Regions from separate parts of the Homo sapiens genome. Here region 2 is linked to region 1. The links come from fine-mapping of genetic effects on gene expression. A gene starts in region 1. The other region holds a variant in brackets. All regions are shown on one strand. Distances are from middle to middle. Region 1 holds the start of OR10Z1 (olfactory receptor family 10 subfamily Z member 1). Region 2 overlaps SPTA1 (spectrin alpha, erythrocytic 1).

Evidence for each region.
Region 2: its variant is fine-mapped to the expression of OR10Z1 in spleen (GTEx, PIP above 0.99).

The regions. Positions count from the first base shown.
Region 1 is chr1:158,598,782-158,609,422 of GRCh38, reverse strand. OR10Z1 (olfactory receptor family 10 subfamily Z member 1) reads right to left here and starts at 4,155. Exons shown (of 2, transcript NM_001004478.2): 1 at 4,022-4,155; 2 at 1-3,097. The coding sequence starts at 2,984. The coding sequence ends at 2,043.
Region 2 is chr1:158,650,835-158,661,475 of GRCh38, reverse strand. SPTA1 (spectrin alpha, erythrocytic 1) reads left to right here. Exons shown (of 52, transcript NM_003126.4): 18 at 67-189; 19 at 3,782-3,999; 20 at 4,820-4,912; 21 at 6,728-6,865; 22 at 8,051-8,202; 23 at 8,823-9,009; 24 at 10,008-10,109. Among named protein-coding and RNA genes, the nearest start is that of SPTA1, 31 kb to the left of the region's middle. RefSeq lists a silencer at 2,570-2,770. The variant C/A (reference allele first, on the strand shown) is at 6,738.

The DNA.
Region 1 (10,641 bases):
CAATGAGGCATTACTTCTTCCAATATTGAGAACTTCAGAGTAGATGGCCTTTCTCCCCTGATGAGGCCCTTTTGGCTATCTGACTAACTCATCTACTTGTCTTCATCCTGTTCTCTTCTCTGAGCTCTAGCTTCCTTCCTCTCAAATTGTTTTCATCAAATTCCAATTAGAGGATGTATTTCTTTCCTGAAAGCATGAAAAAATATGGATTTCTGTCTGAAAAATATCTTCTCGGCCTAAGGTCTTTCCTTGTCTCTCAAGCCATGCCCCACTTCTATCTCACTGCCAAATCCTGTGAATTCTACCTTCTCAAAATCTCATGTTTGTGATTTCCTTCAGTCTCTGAATGTCACTATCCATATTCAAGCCTCTTTGCCTTTTTTTAAGCTGATATCCATGGGTTTCTTGCTGATCTCCTTGCCTCTGGTTTCTCTCTACTGAAATCTATCATCCCCTTTGCTGCTGGATTAATCTTCCTGAATCCCTTCCCAGATGCCTCTCTCTGTTCAACGTTTTACTGTGCCTTATCTCCTATAGACAAAAGGACCATGTCTGAAGCAAGGTATTCAAATTATTTCAACAAGTAAGTCATGACTCAAACTAACTTCTCAGCATCATTTGTGAGTTGTTTCCAGCCCCTCTGAATAACTCACACACATTAAACTAGGCTTATATTGTCTTACCATCAAGCCTTTGGCTATTACATTCTCTCTTCTGAGAATGTACTTTCTCCCCAGTCAGTGCATTCAAAGCTCACCCATCCTTTAGGAACAAGTTCAGATACTATTTAAGACATGAAGTCTTCTCTGATCCTCCACCTAGAGTAAACTCTACCTAAACTAAAAGCCAATATCTTTTTCCTTCACACATTTTAATAGTAGCAACTGGAATTTATTGGACGATCGCTATGATCCAAGGGTTGTGCTAAATTCTTTGTATGCATGATCCTGTTTAGTCACCAACCATTGTAAAGATAAGACTCGGAAGCTGAAAAAAATGTTAAATAACTTACCTAGAGTCACACAGCTAGTAAGTTGAAGAGTTTGGATTCAAACTCCTGCCTGACGGTCTTGTGAGTTCATTACACTTTCTCTAATAATGTCCGCCGCTATATATAACCACATTATATGTGGAAAGTGGAATAGGCAGAATAGATAGTTCTGCAATAGATTCAAAAGAACAGTATCCAATTTGATAAGCGACCCAAATGAGAAAGGTCTTTGACACTCAAGATTCTGAAGCTACCAGGGAACATTAACAGTTATAAAAAAAAATAGGAAGTAAATATATTTTCTGAAATAGAGTGCACCCAGCTTGGAAAATCAATCAAAACAAAAAGGGCAAAGTAACAGAGTCAGAGATAGTGAGGACAACTATATAAAAAGATGATTCCATGTTTTTGCTACTGTCAATAGCACAATGAGGAATGTATAAGCACATGTGCCCCACTGTATATGAAATAATAGTTGAAATTAAAAAAAATAAAAACATAAAAAGATGAAAGACACCCAGTGGGAGTAAAAATGACCCACCTGTTCATTTAACAAAGCTTTAAACTAACCTGTCAAGCTGATATTCCCCAGGTTTCAAATCTTGGAAGAACATTACAGGTCAAATAGTCTAATTATGTAATGATTTTAGAAATCTCTACAGTATCCCTGATGGGCTCCAGCCAGCCCTGCCTTGAACTTGAACACTCCAAACTTCCCTCATTTTGTTCAGCTCAATTAAAAAATTCTTGATTATCTTAATTAAATTTTTAATTCTCAATGGGTTTCAGTAACTAGGGGTGGCATCTAGGAGGCTGAAAGTTAAAATTCAGATTTTGGGCTCATTTTGAGTTGTGCACAGTGAGCAGAGCAGGAAGCCCCGCCTCTGCATTCCAAGCAGTCAGGGGGAAGGGCAAGAGGCAGGATAAGGCTTTCCCAGAAGATTGGGGGTAGGACAGCTTTGGCCTGAGGCCTTGAATACCTGGCCCTTTGGCTTGGGTTCTTGGTCTATGCCCAGCCTACACAGAAGAAAGTGTCCTATTGGGGTAACCTTCATCCTTTACCCAGCAATCTCCCTCTGAAAGCATTCCTCAGAGCTGTCTGTATAGCCCTATTCCTTAGACTATAAACAATGGGATTAAGGAGGGGGGTCACTACAGTATAGGTCATGGCAATAAGCTGATCTCTCTCAAGAGAGTAGCTGGCTTTGGGCCTCAGGTACACGAAGGAAGCACAGCCATAATGAATAATGACCACTGTAAGGTGCGAGGCACAAGTGGAGAAGGCCTTCTTCTGCCCCTCAGCAGAGGGGATCCTCAGTATTGCTGCCAAGATGTAGGCGTAGGAGATGGTGATGAAGAAGAAGGAGACCAAGAGGACCAAAAGACTGAGGATAAAGATCCTCAGCTCACTCGGGCCTGTATCTCCACAGGCTAGGCTCAGCACAGGTGGCGTGTCACAAAAAAAGTGCTGGATTTCATGGGAGCTGCAGAATGAGAGGTGGAAAATAACTAGTGTCATTCCCAGTCCAAAGAGGTATCCAGTCAGGAAGGAAGTAATGACCAGCTGGGCACAGAGGGTAGGATTCATGTGGCTGGCATAGTGGAGTGGAGCACAGATGGCCACATATCTGTCAAAGCCCATGGCAGCCAGAAGGAAGCAGTTAGTACAGGCCCATGAGGCAGAAAAGAACATCTGGGCAGCACAGCCCACATAGGAGATAGCCTGGTCCCCCCCAGCCAGGCCAGAGAGCATTCTAGGGATGATGCCCAAAGTGTAGCAGGTCTCAGAGAAGGATAGGAAGGAAAGGAAGAGGTACATGGGGGTGTGCAGATGGCTATCCAGCCTGATGGCTATGATAATGAAGACATTGCTGGTCAGAGTGACTAGATACAGAGAGAGGAACAAGGCAAAGAGAAGGAGCTGCAACTCCCCAGAACTGGAGAAGCCCAGGAAGACAAAATCCCTCCAGGAGGTTACGTTGGTCTGCCCCATTCTGAGAGGTATATCCCTGATAGATTTGTTGATTTCTTCCACCTTGCCAGTAGATGCCTAACTTCTTTAAAAGGTGGATGATATGGATTCTTTTTCTCTTGTTCCTGTTGCAACTTAAAAAGGCAGCTCTGATTTAGACTCTACTCAAACTTCAAAAAAGTATTTGTTAAATTAGACACAAATGTATGGGTCCATTCCCATATGACTGTATGTACATATACACATACACAGATGCACAATCACAGACATTCATATGCACATACTTGCACACAAACATATGTATGACTACATACATGCAGGTGTATATATGCTTTATAGCATTCACACATAATTATGCATATCTTACACATTCAAAACTATAAATTATACATTTGCTATTAATGGCCATATCCACAAATATATCAGGCAGGCACATACATTACAAACACATATGTATATAGATAGCATGCAAATTCGTAGATACACACATCACATATAAAGATACACACACCACATATACGTTTATATTGTCTTTATACATACACTATCACATAAGAATACACATATGGACACACCCATATTGCTTGTTAGAACTTTGTGGGGAGGTGGGGAAACTTGATCTTGATGGATTTTGTTTTATAGATCAGGTAACAAAGATCAAGAGAGGTGAAGTGACTTTCTTGAAGTCACACAGAACCAGTATTAGAAAACAAGTATGGTGACTCTTAATCTATCCTTATTTTCCCCATACAATGATGACTCTCTTTAGAGACTATGGAACACACACTAATATGAATATGGAGTAAGAAATAGTTAGTTCAACGATAATCACTTTATCTATACAACCCCTCTTCCAAGCCATTTTACCCTTTCCAAATTCCTTGGGCAGAGTAGGGCAGGCTTCTTTTACCTGTGAATCTATGTTAAGCACGGAAGAAAATGTCAGGGCTCAAGGCAGGTTGTGCAGCATGCATCTCTCAGCCCAAAATCAGGTACTGCTGCCTCCAAAAACTCTACTCTAAACCAAAGCATAAGTCAAGGGAGGATTCTCCACTCACCTGAACAGACTCACGCTGACCTGAAGAGGCTCACAAAGCAAGTCCTGCCTTTTAGCTCCCATGCACTAGACTGCCTCCCAGCAGGATAGACCACAGGAGAAAGACTTGAGATGCATCTTGAAATCTCCTACTCTGAGCAGTGTGATGTCTCCAAATGATACAAAGAAATCTTCTTCCACACCCCTAGTTCCAGGTGGTAAATAATACCTTCTTCCATCCAAACAGCTTCTTTCTCAGAGGATTCTCTAGTCCCAATGGGTGCTGTCTCAGGAAGCACGTCTAATTGTGTTTTTTTGTCATTAGTTGGGAATATCCTTTTGGGGAAAGCAGAAAGGGGAATGTGAACAAGAGATACTAGGATCATGATTTAAATAATAAGTATTGTATCATGTGCTAAGTATTAAACACTAATTTTTTTCACAACATAAATCTCTTTTAAAATTTACAGCAGCCTAGTGAGATAGTGTTAATAGTTACACTTTATAGAAGTGTAACTGAGCCTAATAGACTTTAAATAACTGGTCCAAAATTACAGAACTAAGGACTTATGCTTATAAATTTATACCATAAGATGTATAATTTAAAAATGAAACAAGAATTCAGCTGCTCCCCACTGCTGTCTCAAGAGCTTGATATAACTACTTTGGATATGTGCCTGGTTTCAAAGTCATTCTGAAGAAAATTCTGATCTCTTTCAGGGTCAATTTATTCCTGCATCCTCATTTGTCTATTCCATTTTTTTCTCAGATGCATCATTTTAAAAGCAACTTTACCTTATTTTCATCCTCTTCCTTTGTTTCAACAATGCTGCAATATCTGCATCCAGACAAGTGATATACTTTCCACCTTCAGATTGTTCTGAAACCTTAAAATGTCCCAAAAGTCTACCTACAACTAGGTTAATCTGACTTGTCACTCTTAAAATGCATGTCTCTCTGATATACTTAATGGTGTAAATAGTTGCACCTTCTACATACATCTTCACTCATTGACTGATTTAATAGAAACAACAATGATAATTGGCAACATGTATTCATCAACAGATATTGACTAATTTCATTATATAAATTTAATAAAATATGTGAGTATTATTATTATTCCTATTTTTCCAATAAGAACACTGAGGCATGAAAAATATTAAATAACTTACCCAAGATAACACAGTCAATTGGTGAGGCAGTAGTAAGTAGACTTAAGAAGCCTTTCTTTTGTTTACCATACTATTCCCAGGACCCTGCTTTGGGGTTAGGAAGATGAGTTAGATGTTGGAACAAAATAACAATTGATTTTATAACTATTTTTCTTGCAATGTTGTTTTAGTTGTTGATCTAGCAATTACAGCATGTATTTTTAACATAATCTACTTAAACTTAACATTGAATTATTTCCAGTTAAATGTAGAAAATTTGCAATGTCTTAGTCCCAATTATGTAAATCTACTAACACGTTGTCATAATTTTTGAACAGGCATATGCTATTATAAAGAAATTAAGAGAAAATTATGTTTGTGCAAATCTTTTATATTTAACCAATATTTATCATTTTCAGTGCTCTTCAATCTTTCTTGTATAATCAGATTTTATGTTCCTTCATCCTTAAGGATTTCTCTTAGTATTTCTTATGGTGTAGTTTTGCTAGCAATACATTATCTCCATTTTTATTTATTTGAAAATATCTTCACTTTTTCTTTCTTTGTGAAATGTATTTTTACTGGATATAAAATTACTAGTCATCAGGGTTTTTTTCTTTCATCTTTCTATGCCATTTTCAATGTCTCTGTCTTCAAAAGTTTCTGTTGAGAATGCTACCATTAATTGTATCATTTTTCCACTCATATAATGTGTCATTTTTCTCTAGTTGCTTTAATATTTTCTCTTTACTATAAGAAATTTAACTAAAATGTACTTGAATGTACCTTATGTGTTTCTCTTACTTGTGGCTTCTTGAATATCTTGAACTAGTGAATTAATATTTTCCACCAAATTTGGGAAGTTTTCAGCTGTTATTTCTTCAATATTTTTCTTTATCTTTTTCTTTTTTGTTTGTACAAATGTATAGGGTACATGAGATATTTTGTTATACGTACATAATGCATAGTAATCAAGTCAGGGTATTCAGGGCTTCTGTCACCCTAGTACATACATTTTTGTTAAGTATAGTCACCCTATTCTGATATCAAACATTACTCCATCTCATTGTATATTGGCACTGGGTGATGGTTATTATTGTGTCAGCTTGATTGGATTGAAGGATGCAAAGTATTGTTCCTGGGTGTCTCTGTGAGGGAGTTGCCAAAGGAGATTAACATTTGAGTCAGTAGACTAGAAGAGGCAGACCCAGCCTCAATGTGGGTGGGCACAATCTAACCAGATGCCAGCATAGCTAGGATAAAGGCAGAGGGGTGTGGAATGACTAGACTGACTGTCTTCTGGCCTCCATCTTTCTCCCATGCTGGATGCTTTCTGACCTCAAACATCGGACTCCAAGTTCTCCAGCTTTTGGACTCTTGGGCCTGCACCATTAGTTTGCCAGGGGCTCTCAGGCCTTCAGCCACAGACTGAAAGCTGCACTGTCGGCTTCCCTACTTTTGAGGTTTTGGGACTCGAACTGGCTTCCTTGCTCCTCAGCTTGCAGATGACCTACTGTGGGTCTTCACCTTGTGATTGTGTGAGTCAATACTTCTTAATAAACTCCCTTTCATATATGCATCTATCCTATTAGTGCTGTCCCCCTAGAGAACCCTAACACTATTTAACAGAATTATCTTCATGCAACCGTTCATCCTGACCCTTCCCAGTATTTTTAATTTATCTTTCCACTACCTACTTCCATGGAATCAAATTTTTTAGCTCCCACATGAAAGTGAGAACATGCAATATTTACTTTTTGTGTGTCTGGTTTATTTTACTTAAGATAATCACCTCCAGTTCCATCCATGTTGCTGCACATGGCATGATTTCATCCATTTATGCCTGAATATTATTTCAATGTGTATATCTACCACATTTTTGTTTTTTATGCATTCATCCATCTATGCACACTTAGACTGATTGCATATCTTTGCTGTTGTAAATAGTGCTACAATAAGCATGTGAGTGTAGTAGTTATCCCTTTGATATAGCCATTTCTTTTCCTTTATGTAGATATCTAGTAGTGAGATAGCTGGATAAAATAGCTGAGAACTCTCCATACTGTTTTCATAGTGACTGTACTTGTTTACATTCCTACTAGCAAATGTGTGAAAATTTCTCCACATCCTCACCAACATGTTATTTTTAATGATAGCCATTCTGACTGAAGTAAGATGATATCTCACTGTGGTTTTGATTTGCATTTATCTGATGATTTTTGATGTTGACCATTTTTTCATATACTTGTTAGCCATTTGTATGTCTTCTTTTGAAAAATGTTTATTCATATTCTTTGCCCACTTTTTAATGGGTTTATTTGGGTTTTTTTTCCTGCTGAGTTGTTTGAGTTTCTTGTATATTCTGGATATAATTTCCCTGCAAGACAAATATTTTGCAAATATTTTCTCCCATTCAAAAGATTGCTCTCTGCTTTGTTGATTGTTTCCTTTACTGTGCAGAAGCTTTTTAGTTTAATGTGGTCCCACTTTTTTGTTGTTGTTGTCACCTGTTCTTTTGATGTCCTAGTCATAAATTATTTGCCTAAACCAATGTCCAGGAAATATTTCTCTAGGTTTTGTTCTAATGTTTTATTATTTAAGGTCTTATGTTTAAGTCCTTAATCAATTTTGAGTTTATGGTGAGAAATAGGGGTCTAATTTCATTCTTCTGCATGTGGCTATCCAATTTTTCCAGCACCATAAATTGAAGAACATGTCCTGTCTTCAATGTAAGTTCTCATTGGCTTTGTTGAAGATCAGTTGGCTCTAAGTATGTGACTTTCTTTCTGGAATTTCTATTCTATTCCATGGGATTTTGTGTCTATTTTTCTACAACAGCATGCTGTATTGGGTACTATATCCTTGTAATACATTTTGAAGTCAGGTAATGTGATGCCTCCAGCTTTGTTCTTTTTGCCCTGAATTGCATTAGCTGTTCAGGCTTGTTTGGGGCTTTATATAAATTTTAGTATTTTTTTTCTTGTTCTTTGCTATTATTTCTTCCCATCCATGAGCACTGGATGTTTTTCCATTTGTTTGTGTCATCTTCAATTTCTTTCATCAATGTTTTATAGTTTTCCTTGTGGAGACCTTTTACCTCCTTGGTTATATTTATTCCTCTGTATTTTTTGGAGGAGGGCAGCTATTATAAAGGTTATTGCCTTTTGATTTCGGTATCGGCTAGATAATTATTGATACATAGAAATGCTACTGAATTTTCTACATTGATTTTGTACCCTGCAACTTTACTGAATTCAAATCTAGTAGTTTTTGCTAGAGTCTTAAATTTTGCTATATATAAGATTATATCAACAGCAGAGAGGGACAATTTGACTTCCTCTTTTCCAATTTGGATGCCTTGGTTTCTTTCTCTTTCCTGATTTCTCTGGCTGAAACTTCCAGTATCATGTTGAATAGTTTTGGGGAAAGTGGGCATCCTTGTTTCATATCTTAGAACAAAGGTTTTCACATTTTCTTCATTCATATGGTGTTAGCTGTGGGTTTATCATATATAGCCTTTATTATTTTGAGATATGTTGCTCCTATGCCTACTTTGTTGAAAGTTTTTATCATAAAGCAATGTTGAATTTTAGCAAATGCTTTTTCTACATCTATTGAGATGATCATATGGTTTTTATGCTTCATTCTATTAATGTGAAGTATCATGTTTATTGATTTGCATGTGATGAACCATCCTTGCATGCCCAGTATAAATATGTTGATCATCATATATATATTTCTTATGAGCTCCAAGATTCCATTTGCTAGTATTTTGTTGAGGATTTATGCATTTGTGTTCATCAGGATATTGGCCTGTGGTGTGCGTTGTTGTTGTGTCCTTATCTGGTTGTAATATCAAGGTGATGCTGGCCTCATAGATGAGTTAGAAAAAAATTTCATACTCTTTAATTTTTTTAGAATAGTTTCAGAAGAATTGGTATTATTTCTTTGTACATTTAGTAGAATATACCTGTGAATATATGTGCTCCTGGGCTTATCTTTGTTGTGAGACATTTTATAACCGATTCAACTTCCCTACTTGATATTGGACTGTTCAGGTTTTCTATTTCTTCCTGACTCAACCTTGGGAAGTTCTATATTTCCAGGAATCTATCCATTTCCTTTAGGTTTTCCAGTTTGTCAGCCTATATGTCAGCATAGTGTGTGATGATCTTTTGAATTTCTGTCGTACCAGTTGAAATGTCTTCTTTTTAATGTCCAATTTTGTTAGAGTCTTCTCTCCTTTTCTTCATTATTTGAGCTAGTGGTTTATCAATTTTGTTTGACTCTATAGAAAACTAACTTTTCATTTTGTTGACCCTTGTAATTTTTTAGTCTCTATTTCATTTACTTTTGCTCTGATCTTTATTCCTTCTTTTATTCTGCTAAATTTAAGTTTGCATTGTTCTTGCCTTTCAAGTTTCTTGAGGTGTGTTGTTAGACTGTTAAGTTATCTTTCTATTTTTTTTTTGATGTAGGCATTTATTGCTATAAAATTCCTTCTTAGCACTACTTTTGCTGTATCCCACTGGTTTTGGTGTGTTGTGCTTCCATTTTCATTTGTTTCATGATTTTTTAAAAAATTCTTAAGTTTTTCCTTAAGGCCAGTTTTTTTCTAAGCAGCATATAGTTTGATCATGTTTTTTTTAATCCATTCATTCATTCTATATTTTTAAATAGAAAATTCAATCCATTTACATTCAAGGTTATTAGTAATTGTGAGGCTGTCATATCATTAGTTGTTTTCTGTTTGTTTTCTATATTCTTTATTGCTTTCTTTTTCCTATATTGACTACCTTTGTGATTTGGTGGATTTCTGTAGTGGTATCATTTGAGTCTTTTCTCTTTATCTTATGTGTGATTACTTTACCAGTGAGTTTTATACCTTCATGTGTTTCCATTATGTTCTTTTGCTTCCAGGTTTAGGACTTCCTTGAGCATTTCTTTTAGGGTCAGTTCAATGGCAATGATTTTCCTCAGCATTGGCTTATCTGGGAAAGACTTTATTTCATCTTCATTTATGAAAGATAATTTTGCTTGACATAGTATTATTTGTTGTTAGCTTTTTTTCTCCTTTCCACACTTCGAAAATATCCTATTCTTTACTGGCCTATAAGGTTTCTACTGAGCAATCCACTCTTTATCTAATGGTTTTTCCTTTATAGATTACTAGATGCTTTTCTCTTCCAATTTTTAGAATTCACCTTTCTTCTTTGACTTTAGAAAATATGACTATAATGTGCCATGGGGAAGCACTTTTCCCATTATATCTTGCTAGGGATCACTGAGCCTTTTATATCTGAATGTCTACATATCTTGCTAAAGTAGGAAATATTTTATCTATCATTTGTTAAAATAGGTTTTTGAATTCTTTTATTGCCTCTTTGCCTTAGAAGACACTGATAATTTGAATATTTGATTGCTCTATATTATCTCAAATGTTACAAAGTCTTTGCTCATTTTTTTATTATTTCTTTATTTTTGTCTGGCT
Region 2 (10,641 bases), 52 kb before region 1:
AAAGTGAGGTATGCTACTTCCATACACCAGGATAATCCGAAACTTTGAAATTCCTTTCCTCTGCAGGAAAGGACCTGATTGCTTCCAAAAAGCTTCTGAATAGGCATAGAGTCATCCTGGAGAACATTGCCAGCCATGAACCACGCATTCAAGAGATAACAGAAAGGGGAAACAAAATGGTAGAGGAAGGTATGTATGATTGAGATTCAGTTGGACAAAACATCACCAGGCCAGACCTCTGGGAAGAAGTTTGTACTATCCTAGGGTTTCAAGGGAATTTAAAAATATCTGACTCATTTTCCCACTTAATGCTCTTTTGGCATTTCTGACAAATGGGCATATGGTTTTGTTTGTATATTTCAATAACAGGAATATTCCAATCCTGTGAACCACTATTTGTTTGTAAAACAAAAATTATTAAAGTAAAATGTCTTTATCCTAATCATTAATATGCTTCTCTGTAGAAGTTCCAGAATTCAGAATCTAATTTACAAAGCCCTATGAATTAAATCAGGTCTCTTTTCCATATGGGAGCTTCCAGATCTGTGAAGGCAGATCTTAGTTATGCAGTGTTGAACTATTTTTATAGTAAACTGTTCCATTTCTTTAGCTTCTCACTTCATATAGTTTCAATACCTCTGTTCATTCTTTTCATCCAATTCAGAAATTCCTGATGCTTAAGTATGATGTTCAGTTTTGAACATCATAAGCCAGGTATGGTATAAGCAGTGCAGATTACACTGGGATTTTCCCTCTGTTGATTGAAGAATCAGTTGATGCCAACCAGTATCTAGTTTTCAAAAGTATAGGTTAAAATTCAGTTTGCTGAGAAAAACTTCAGATCCCACCTGAGTGATTCAAACCAACAACTGTAGAAATTCGCCTGTTTTTTAAATCTTCAACTATACTTGTAGATTTTGTCTTCTTCTCTTTTCAGTTCTATCAGTTTTTGTTTCTTATATTTTGAAGCTCTGTTATTACATGCATATACATTTAGTATTGTTATGTCTTTTTGATGAAGTTAAATCTTCACATTATGAAATATCAATCTTTATCCCTGGTGAAATTCTTTGTTCTGAAGCCTTTAGTAAACTAATAAAAGCCACATGAGCTATCTTTTGATTAGTTTTTGCATAGTGCATATTTCTCCATCTTTTTGCTTGCACTCTGTTTCTTATATTTAAAGTGAGATTCTTATAAATAGCATATAATCAGGCCTTGTTTTTATTCTATTCAATCTGGTAATTTTTCTTTTTTAATTGTGATATTTAGACAATTTACACTTAGTGCAATCATCAATATGGTTTATTTTAAATCTGGCAAGTTGCTATGTTTTTTCTTTTTATCTATCACTTTATGTCTCCTTTAGATCAATTTTGTATTTATTGTGATTCCATCTTATCTTCAAATTGGCCTATTAGCTACAATTGCTGTTTTGTGTTTGTGTGTGTATGTTTATTATAGCACAGTGATTTTGCCATTGTGATTTGGAGTCCTTTTAGGGTCTCTGACACACTCTTAGTGGATTCACAAAGTTAAAATATTTTCATAATAATGCTAAGACTAGGCCGGGCGCGGTGGCTCACGCCTGTAATCCCAGCACTTTGGGAGGCCGAGGCGAGTGGATCATGAGGTCAGGAGATCGAGACCATCCTGGCTAACAAGGTGAAACCCCGTCTCTACTAAAAATACAAAAAATTAGCCGGGCGCGGTGGCGGGCGCCTGTAGTCCCAGCTACTCGGGAGGCTGAGGCAGGAGAATGGCGTGAACCCGGGAAGCGGAGCTTGCAGTGAGCCGAGATTGCGCCACTGCAGTCCGCAGTCCGGCCTGGGCGACAGAGCGAGACTCCGTCTCAAAAAAAAAAAAAAAAAAAAAAAAAATAATGCTAAGACTATTATTTTCTTTTACAGACTTATTCTTTTATAAGCATAGAATGGAGTTTCCCAGAGCCTAGAGATGGGTGATGATGTCACTGTTCTGTCTAATGGAGTATATGCTTGTACATTCTTTTCTTTCAAAGCTTCTTGTTTTGATTTCTTATATGGGAACTATTAATCAGTCTAACTATATAAGCAAAAGATATTTTGCATTCTTAATAATTTTTAAAATTGTAAAGGGATCCCAAAAGCACAAATTTGAAAGCCACTATTCCAGGAATTAAAATATAGATTTTTTTAATCTATCATAGTCTAATTTCAAATAATATTATGCATTTCATGTTTAATATAAGATTCTTAAATTGATACTTCCATTTGTTTTCACCCTTGTGCTATTGGTGTCACATATTTTAAATTTTTACATGTTATATACCCTATAATTCAACATCATTATCTTTGCTTTGGTAGTCAACTGGTTTTGAATGAGATTATTAAATGAGAAAAAAATTCACCCTCATAGTTCCCATTTCCAGTATTCTTCATTCCTTTCTTTAGGTTAATATTTTCATTTGTATTATTTTTCTTCTGCTTGAAGAACTTCATCTAACATTCCTTATATTGCAGGTCTTCTATCCATAAATTCTCTAGACTTTTGTTCATCTAAAGGTCTTCATTCTACCTTCCTTTTTGAAATATATTTTCACTACATATAAAATTCTTGGTTGACAACTTCTTTCTTCCAGTATTTTAAAGATGTGCTGTCTTGTCTTCTGACTTTGCAAGCTTCTGATAAGAAGTCTGCTGTCATCATGATCTTTGCTCCTCTGTATGTAATATGTCTTTTTTTCCCCCTCTACCTGTTTTAAAGCTTTTCTCTTTATCACTGGTATTAAACAACTTGATTATGCTATAACTTGATGGAGTTTTCCTTGTTTATTCAGCTCGGTGATTGTTGAGCTCCTTGGATCTGTTTTGTTATGGTACTCCTGGGGCAGGGTTTATTAGGGGACTGATTTAGAGATGAAAGTAATATTGAGATATGTTACTCTTCTGAGGACCCTATCTCATGTATTACAATATTTTTCCACTTTGATGGGTGGAATGTTAACTATTTTCATTCTTAATTGAGGCCTAGAAGTTGTTTGTCCACTGCTTTTAAGTCACTCTTTTCTCACCCTCCAGGATTTCCTTATACATGTGTGCATATGAGTAATCAGACAAATACTCTAGGGAACTTCTCTGAAAAGGTCTATCTCTCTGTAACACCCTTCTCTTTGACACTCAACCTCACAAGTTCTAGTTCTCTTGTCTTTCCCAAATGTTGATCTCTGTGTCCTCAATTCAGTGTGACTGGTGGTTCTATCTGGGTTAGCTACCCAGGCCTACAGCCCAGAAACCTCCTGAGGCATAAGCTTGGCAATTATAAAATATATCTCATTTATTTCCCTTCTCTCAGGAATCAGAGTCCTCTCTCCATTGTCTGAAAATCATTTTATCTTACAGCTTTTCCTGTTTTCTAGTTGTTTAGGGTGGAAGAGCAACTCTCATAGTAATAACTCCTTTATGGGAAGAAATGGAAATCAGCTGATTTTTCTGCTTCATCTAAAGAAGACATGATTTTGGAACTCTCAGTCACCCACACATTAGTATTCTGTTTTCAAGTCTGTCTTTGTCAGACAATACCAACCCATTCACCACCACATGCATATCTCCCATTAGTACCTTTTGTTACTTAATCTCACTTAGGATATTTCAATTCCCAGGTAACTCAAGAAAAATATAACGTCGACTAAATAACATACCATTTTTATCACTTCCTTTCTCTTTTCCAAGGTACCAAAAGGATTAGAGTATGGTAAACACTCATGAGGATCATACTCACCTTTTCTATAATTACTCCATAGGACACTTTGCTGCAGAAGATGTGGCCTCTAGGGTCAAGAGTTTGAACCAGAATATGGAGTCTCTCCGTGCTCGAGCTGCTAGGCGACAAAATGATCTTGAAGCCAATGTCCAGTTCCAGCAGTACCTGGCTGACCTGCATGAAGCAGAAACATGGATCAGAGAGAAGGAACCTATTGTAGATAATACTAACTATGGTGCTGATGAAGAAGCAGCTGGGGTAAGGTGGGGGTGGGTTTAACATTGTGAATCCTCAACAAACGCAACCAAATTATCAATTTAGGGTTTGCTTAGGTTGTGGGACAGCTACAGATTCTGCCAGATTATTTGGGGTTTCCAGAGTGGTCGCCGTTGGCCTTCATCTGCTGAGACTCCCTCAGAGTTGACAGGAATCCCAAAAGATATGCTACATTTTTCTCATCCCATGGAGATTCATATACTCTTTAGAGATTATCTAAATCAAAAAAGTGTGATCAGAGTCATAGTCATAATCCGATCCTAAACTTTCCAGAGTAACCTTGAGCATTTATAAATTAATCATGGTTTTAAGATAGAGACACCTTAATTACTTGATTAAAATAAAATTGGACAGATATGTTGGGGCAAGAAGAACCACAAAGGTTATAATCACACTTTTTATCCATTTATTTGTTTTGCACATTGTCCCATAGGAAGCTGGTATAGTATTTCACAAACCTTTGGAACTAGAAATTATTGGTATGCATATTTTAAGTTACACTAATGTTTATCCTATAAAGTAACAGTATCAACAGCATCCTCTTTTCAGCTATAATCTGTGTTGATAAAAATACTTTTGCAAGTTTGAGTTAATTTTGATTTTAGTAAACATATTGAAATTATAATTTATTAATTCCTATTTCCTTCATGCTTGCAAATTTAGGGTTAAAAATAACTTTATGATAGATGGAAAGCAGCTTTTACCAGGATTTAAGACAAATAGCATAACCCAAAATAATAGTAGTTGAAATAATAGTGTTCCTCCTATATTCATTCTGATGATCTTCCATCAATAAATGCAGGCTCTTCTAAAGAAGCATGAGGCCTTTCTATTAGATCTCAATTCATTTGGAGACAGTATGAAAGCTCTGCGGAATCAGGCAAACGCCTGCCAGGTAAGACTAACTTAGCGATGACAGGATTCACACTTCCCACCACAAAGAAAAAGAAATTGTCTTTATTGCTGATTTTTTACTTTCTACAACCCCAAAAACAATGGCAAAGAAAACACTAAGTTCTATGACCCTTGTATGCAGGAACTGTAGCATCCACAATTTAGTCCAAAGGAGACTTTGTCCAAAAGAGGTTTTTGATAAATGGTATCATGTCTTCATTGATGTATTTTTGGCTTTCCTCTTTCCTTCCTTTTATATTTCTACCCTTCTTTCTTTCTTACTTTTCTTCATTTATGTCTCTCCTTCTTATCTTTCTTCTTTACTCCCTTCTTTTGTTTCTTAATTTTTAATGCCAAAACTTATTAAATGTCTACTATATGTAAGTATGAATAAAAAATCCTGATTTGCAGGAAAATTACAGTCTATTAGGAGGCCAGATGTTTAACAGTAAGTGCATATAATAGATGTATGAACAGGACAAAGAGTCTCAAAGAAAGGCCTCTTGTGTTCTCTTGAAATAACAGTACTGGAAAACAGGAAAATTTTTGTAAGCTAAGGGAAACCGCCTGATCTGAATTATTAAGGAAAGACAGATGGGTAGTTTACTGTGCAGAGAAAGAGGATAAGCGTTTTTCTAGTCAATAAACCATGAGAGCAAATGCACTGAGGCACAAAACAATCAAGTTTTGTGGAAAATGCAATTGGTTAAGAATGTGAGAATGGAAGATGCAATTGGTTGAGAATATGAGAATGGCTCAGGTACAGGGCAAAACTGGGTGTCATGAAGATTAATTGAACTGGAATCAAATAAATGTTATAACAATGTCTACTATATGTAGTGGTAGAAAAAAAGAGACACACTTCTTACCTTCAAGGAATTCTTTCTAATGAGAGGTTGTTAATCCACACATTCAGAGTAAACAAAAGACGTAGACTCAGTCTGTCAAATCAGTGTATATTTACAGACCTCCTATACTGTGCCTTCACCAGGCTCTGCACAGTGGGTGCCTAAACAAGAACAGAAGGATTTATATATTGTGTGGTATGAGGAAACATGTTACCTAAAGGAGATGAAATTAGAGGGCTCTGTCGGTGGAGGTGCATATTCAACTCCAACCTGAGGAAGGGGTGGGTCATTCCTTAGGAAGAGGGGTTATGTTTTGCTTGATTTCTCAGAGACATGAAATTGGCAGAAAGTAAAAATCAGAGAAAATTCTACCTTAGAATGCAGGCTGCTTACTAAACTGAGACACAAGATACTTTTAATGATCTCAGTTAATGTTCTCAGTTTTTAAAATTCTGTGGCCTTTCCTGTGCTATTGATCACTCATATCTCAAATAGAAGGTCCGGAGCTCCTGACATAGTAACTTAAAGGCCAGAAGGAGTGGGAAGAATTATCACTGGAGGTACAGGGAAAGGTGACGACAGAGAGTGGGTCTTTTCACTTTCTCAAACAATTTTTTGAAATGTTGATGTGTATAATCCTGTTGGACCTTCTTAAGGGAGTACACTTCTTAAAATGTACTCCTCCCATTTTAAGAACTGATGGCTTAGAGCATTTAATACGTTTCTGACAAATTATGTATTTCCTTCCTTGCTTTGGGTTTATAGTTCCCAACCTGCCTGTCCCCGATAAGTGTCAGAATGGAGCAGTCTCTCTGAAGACCACATACTTTAATCTCTGCAGCCACGTAAGAGGTTCCAGCCAGAGGCTCTTTTCTCCTGGGAAGCCTAAAGGACTACTCACCCCTGGTAAGCTGTACAGGGAGATATTTCCAGTGCGTGACTGACACCTGCTTCCTGTTTTTATTCAGCAACAACAGG[C/A]TGCACCAGTGGAGGGAGTTGCTGGAGAACAAAGGGTCATGGCTTTATATGACTTCCAGGCCCGCAGCCCCCGAGAAGTCACCATGAAGAAAGGTGATGTCTTAACGCTGCTCAGTTCCATCAATAAGGTGACTTTTCCTTCTAATCTTTCCATCAAAAAGTGGCTCTTTCAGAACCATCTCTCCCAATCCTGCCAGATATTCATATTTTTACCATCTAACATTTATTTTATTATTTTATTTCTTGAATAACTATAACTGATTAGGTAGTATTTTTCCTGTAGATATTTTGCAGGATCCTACACATATCTTTTGGAATTATAATCCCAATGTTGCAGTTAAAATCATAAAGAATTGAAGTTATATAATTAGCCCAAAGATATAGAAAGTATGAGTGGAAATTCTATAATATATTTAAAGGGCTAAGCTGTCTCTTTCTTTCTTCCTCTTTGCTTGTTCCTCTTCTGTGCCAGTATTTCTAGTGATAAAATAACAATGTCTGGGGTTAGAAGGAGCCTACCAAAAGATGAGTCTTTTGTCAACTTGATTTTCTTTAGATCTTGTGCCTGGAAGAACAGTGATAAAATATTGGTTGAGATTTTTAAATATATTTTTCATAAAAACTGAAGTAATTTTTTATACTCTGATACCTAATTAATCTACAAAAATTCTTAAGAAGAAAAGAAAATAGTTTGGGCTATAGTTATTCCAAAGACAAGTAAATGTTTGGAGCGGCAGATGTTTCATTATCAAATAATGTGTGCCAGTCCATTTTTTCTTTGTCTAGGCCTCTTCATTATTTTTTGAGGAAATTAGCCTCAGGGTTTTGGTAGATGTGGCAACAGTTCAAAAATAAAAAATAAAGTAACACTCAGGTATATGAATGTCAGAGCAATTCACATTTTTCAGACCTCTGCAAGAAGAATAGAAGAGAAGAATTTTTGTGCAATATCCTCTTACACAGACGCTCCACTGCCAAGAAATCCAGCTAGAGCCTGGCTCCATGTGTTTTTTGTAAATTCCTCATGAACAAAGTGCCCCATCATTAAAAGAGCTGTCTTGGGTGTTTGAAAATCTCTCCAAAGTTAAGGGTCTAACATTAGGTATCAGATTACTTGATTTCAGGGGCTTGTCTATGCAATTCTTCATTTCATTTCTTGGTCATATATGAAAATTATGTGCCACTCATTAGACATGGTTAGCTTATCTTTGCCATTAACCTGTGCCTGGGCCAAGAGACTTAGTGTTGAAGTCTCTCCCGTTTGTTGCTTTTCCAAGAATTAATGACGGAGTGGGGATCTGCTCTCCCTTCAGGACTGGTGGAAGGTGGAAGCTGCTGATCATCAGGGCATTGTCCCAGCTGTCTATGTCAGAAGACTGGCCCACGATGAGTTCCCGATGCTCCCACAGCGGCGACGAGAAGAGCCAGGAAACATCACCCAGCGCCAGGAGCAGATTGAGAACCAGTAAGTTCTGGAGCCTGGAGAACTGAACAGTATTTGGTCAGACATTTTTCGCCAAAGGCATTTCTTCTCATGACCCTGCATCTGTTAGATTTGAGATGCCACAGAAAATCTGAAGATTTTAAGAATCGAAAGTAAACCTAGAATCTTTTAAATGTTTCGGTTTCTTTTTGAGGAAAGGCAACCCCAGAATCATTCCATCAATTTCCTGAGGTCATACACTTCACAGAGCTCTTCTGATTCCCTGCCCCACATTCTTTCAAGGTTATTAAAGTCTCCTGACATCTATATGAACTTTGTTTACTATGCCAGGCTTTTCATATCCAATTGTCAGTTACCATGTAAAAATGTCACTTTTATGAAATGGGAAAGGAATGTTGCCAGTCATACTATTGGGTCACTGGCATTTTTACTATTTTTAAATGCAATCCTATGTGTTTATCTTTTTGCCCCCAAGGCTGTTTTCCTTCTAAGTTTATTTCCTCCTCTCTTCTACTATTCTTTTGCTTTTGATTTGTTTTCCCTTTCATTTTTGTTCCTTCTTTCTCTATGTTTGTCACTCAGCCTCTACTCTTCTGTATTTTCTCCTTCTTTTATTCCACTTTTCCCAATTCTCCATCCAGATACCGCTCCCTCTTGGATCGGGCAGAAGAACGCAGACGTCGTCTATTGCAACGTTATAATGAATTTTTATTGGCCTATGAGGCAGGAGACATGCTGGAATGGATTCAAGAGAAAAAGGCAGAAAACACTGGAGTGGAACTAGATGATGTTTGGGAGCTGCAGAAAAAGTTTGATGAGTTCCAAAAGGTGAGAAAGAGGAACCTTCTCTTGAAGGTTGCCATTGTTTGCTTTTATCCCTCAGCATATTCTACATGATCTTTTAATTTATTTCACACTTGTTAAATATTCTCCCCAAAGCTATTGGCAACTCTGTGGCTGAGATCTCCCTCTAGGTATTGTAGTTGCTAATAATTGGAAGGGAAATGCAGAGAAAACTAGTTACCCTAACTGCAGCCTTCAGTGCCTGCCACTCCAAAATCCTCCCTGGAGTGCTGGTCTTCCTGAATTCTTCACAACTTGCCCTATACTATACTTTGTTTCCAGTGCCCAGGTTGGGATAAGGTATTGTTGTACCATGTGTAAAGTTTAATTATGGGGCAGAGTTTGGGGTGGAAGAAGGAAGAACCTGACTTGACAAACAATTTCTAATTTTTTGCCTACCTAAAACCCTTTCAATATTCTTTCTTCCCTTAGATTTTTTTCCATTATCTTAACTAGCAGTGAGTGTACATTCCTTCTTTTCTTTTTCTTTTGATATCTTCCACGTGGGATTTAACACACACACACGCGCACACACACACACAGAGAGAGAGAGAGAGAGAGAGAGAGAGAGCACTCCCTAGAGCTGTTTCTTACAATATCTCATAATATAGGCAGATAATAACTCAGTTAAAGAAATCTTTAAAGCTGGAGTTTGTACTGGTAGAAAAGGATGTTACACAGCTCAGGTATCAATCCCTCTAATGGTATAATTTAATCCAGGGGAGATTTTAAGAAATCTAGAAAAATGGCTGTGCTTCATACTACAGATAAATAATAGTTATCTTGACAAGTTTTGGACAGCCACTAGGTGTCAAGATCTTTAAGGATACTCTTCTCAGTGGTGGATTGGAGGAGAGGAGCTTGGTGTGTATTACGGTGATGTAGGGGCAGAGATGGACAGGTAAGTATGGTAGATTCTTGATGAGGGGATTTACACTGCTTTGGATGAATTTACACTGCTTTGGATGAATTTTCCCATTCAGGATTTGAATACCAATGAGCCTCGGCTAAGGGATATCAACAAGGTAGCTGATGATCTACTATTTGAAGGACTTCTAACACCAGAAGGAGCTCAAATCCGGCAGGTAACTAAGGCTCCCTCCATTCCTCCTCACTACCAGGTTGGGCTTTGGGAGTCCTCATTTCACTTCAACATGGAACTTTATATTCTGCAGACCCACTAGAACATGCAGAAGGTAACAGCAGTATGGAATTAGCTACAGGAAAGGCCAAAGACAATAGCCCAAATAGTCCCTGTATTTTTGTTGTCTAAATTAACTTAATTAAAGCAGGCTCATTTGTTAACATATATTGAGTGTCCTCCATGCCCTCACATATGTCATTTCATGGATGGGGTGGGAAAGGAGACAAAAGTATTGGTAGCAGAAATTAAGATGTAGCTTTAAAAGGCAGGATTAGGAGGTTTAGATAATATTACACTGGACATTAGGTAAATTAGATTTACATCATAGCTGTATTCTTGTCTGACTGTGTGTCCTCAGACAAGTCTCTTCATTTCTAAAAACCTCAGTTTCTATATCTGAAAGCAAATATTGGATAGCACAATATCCAAATTACAATATCCAAACCTCCTCTTAATCTTCTGTACCAGGCTAC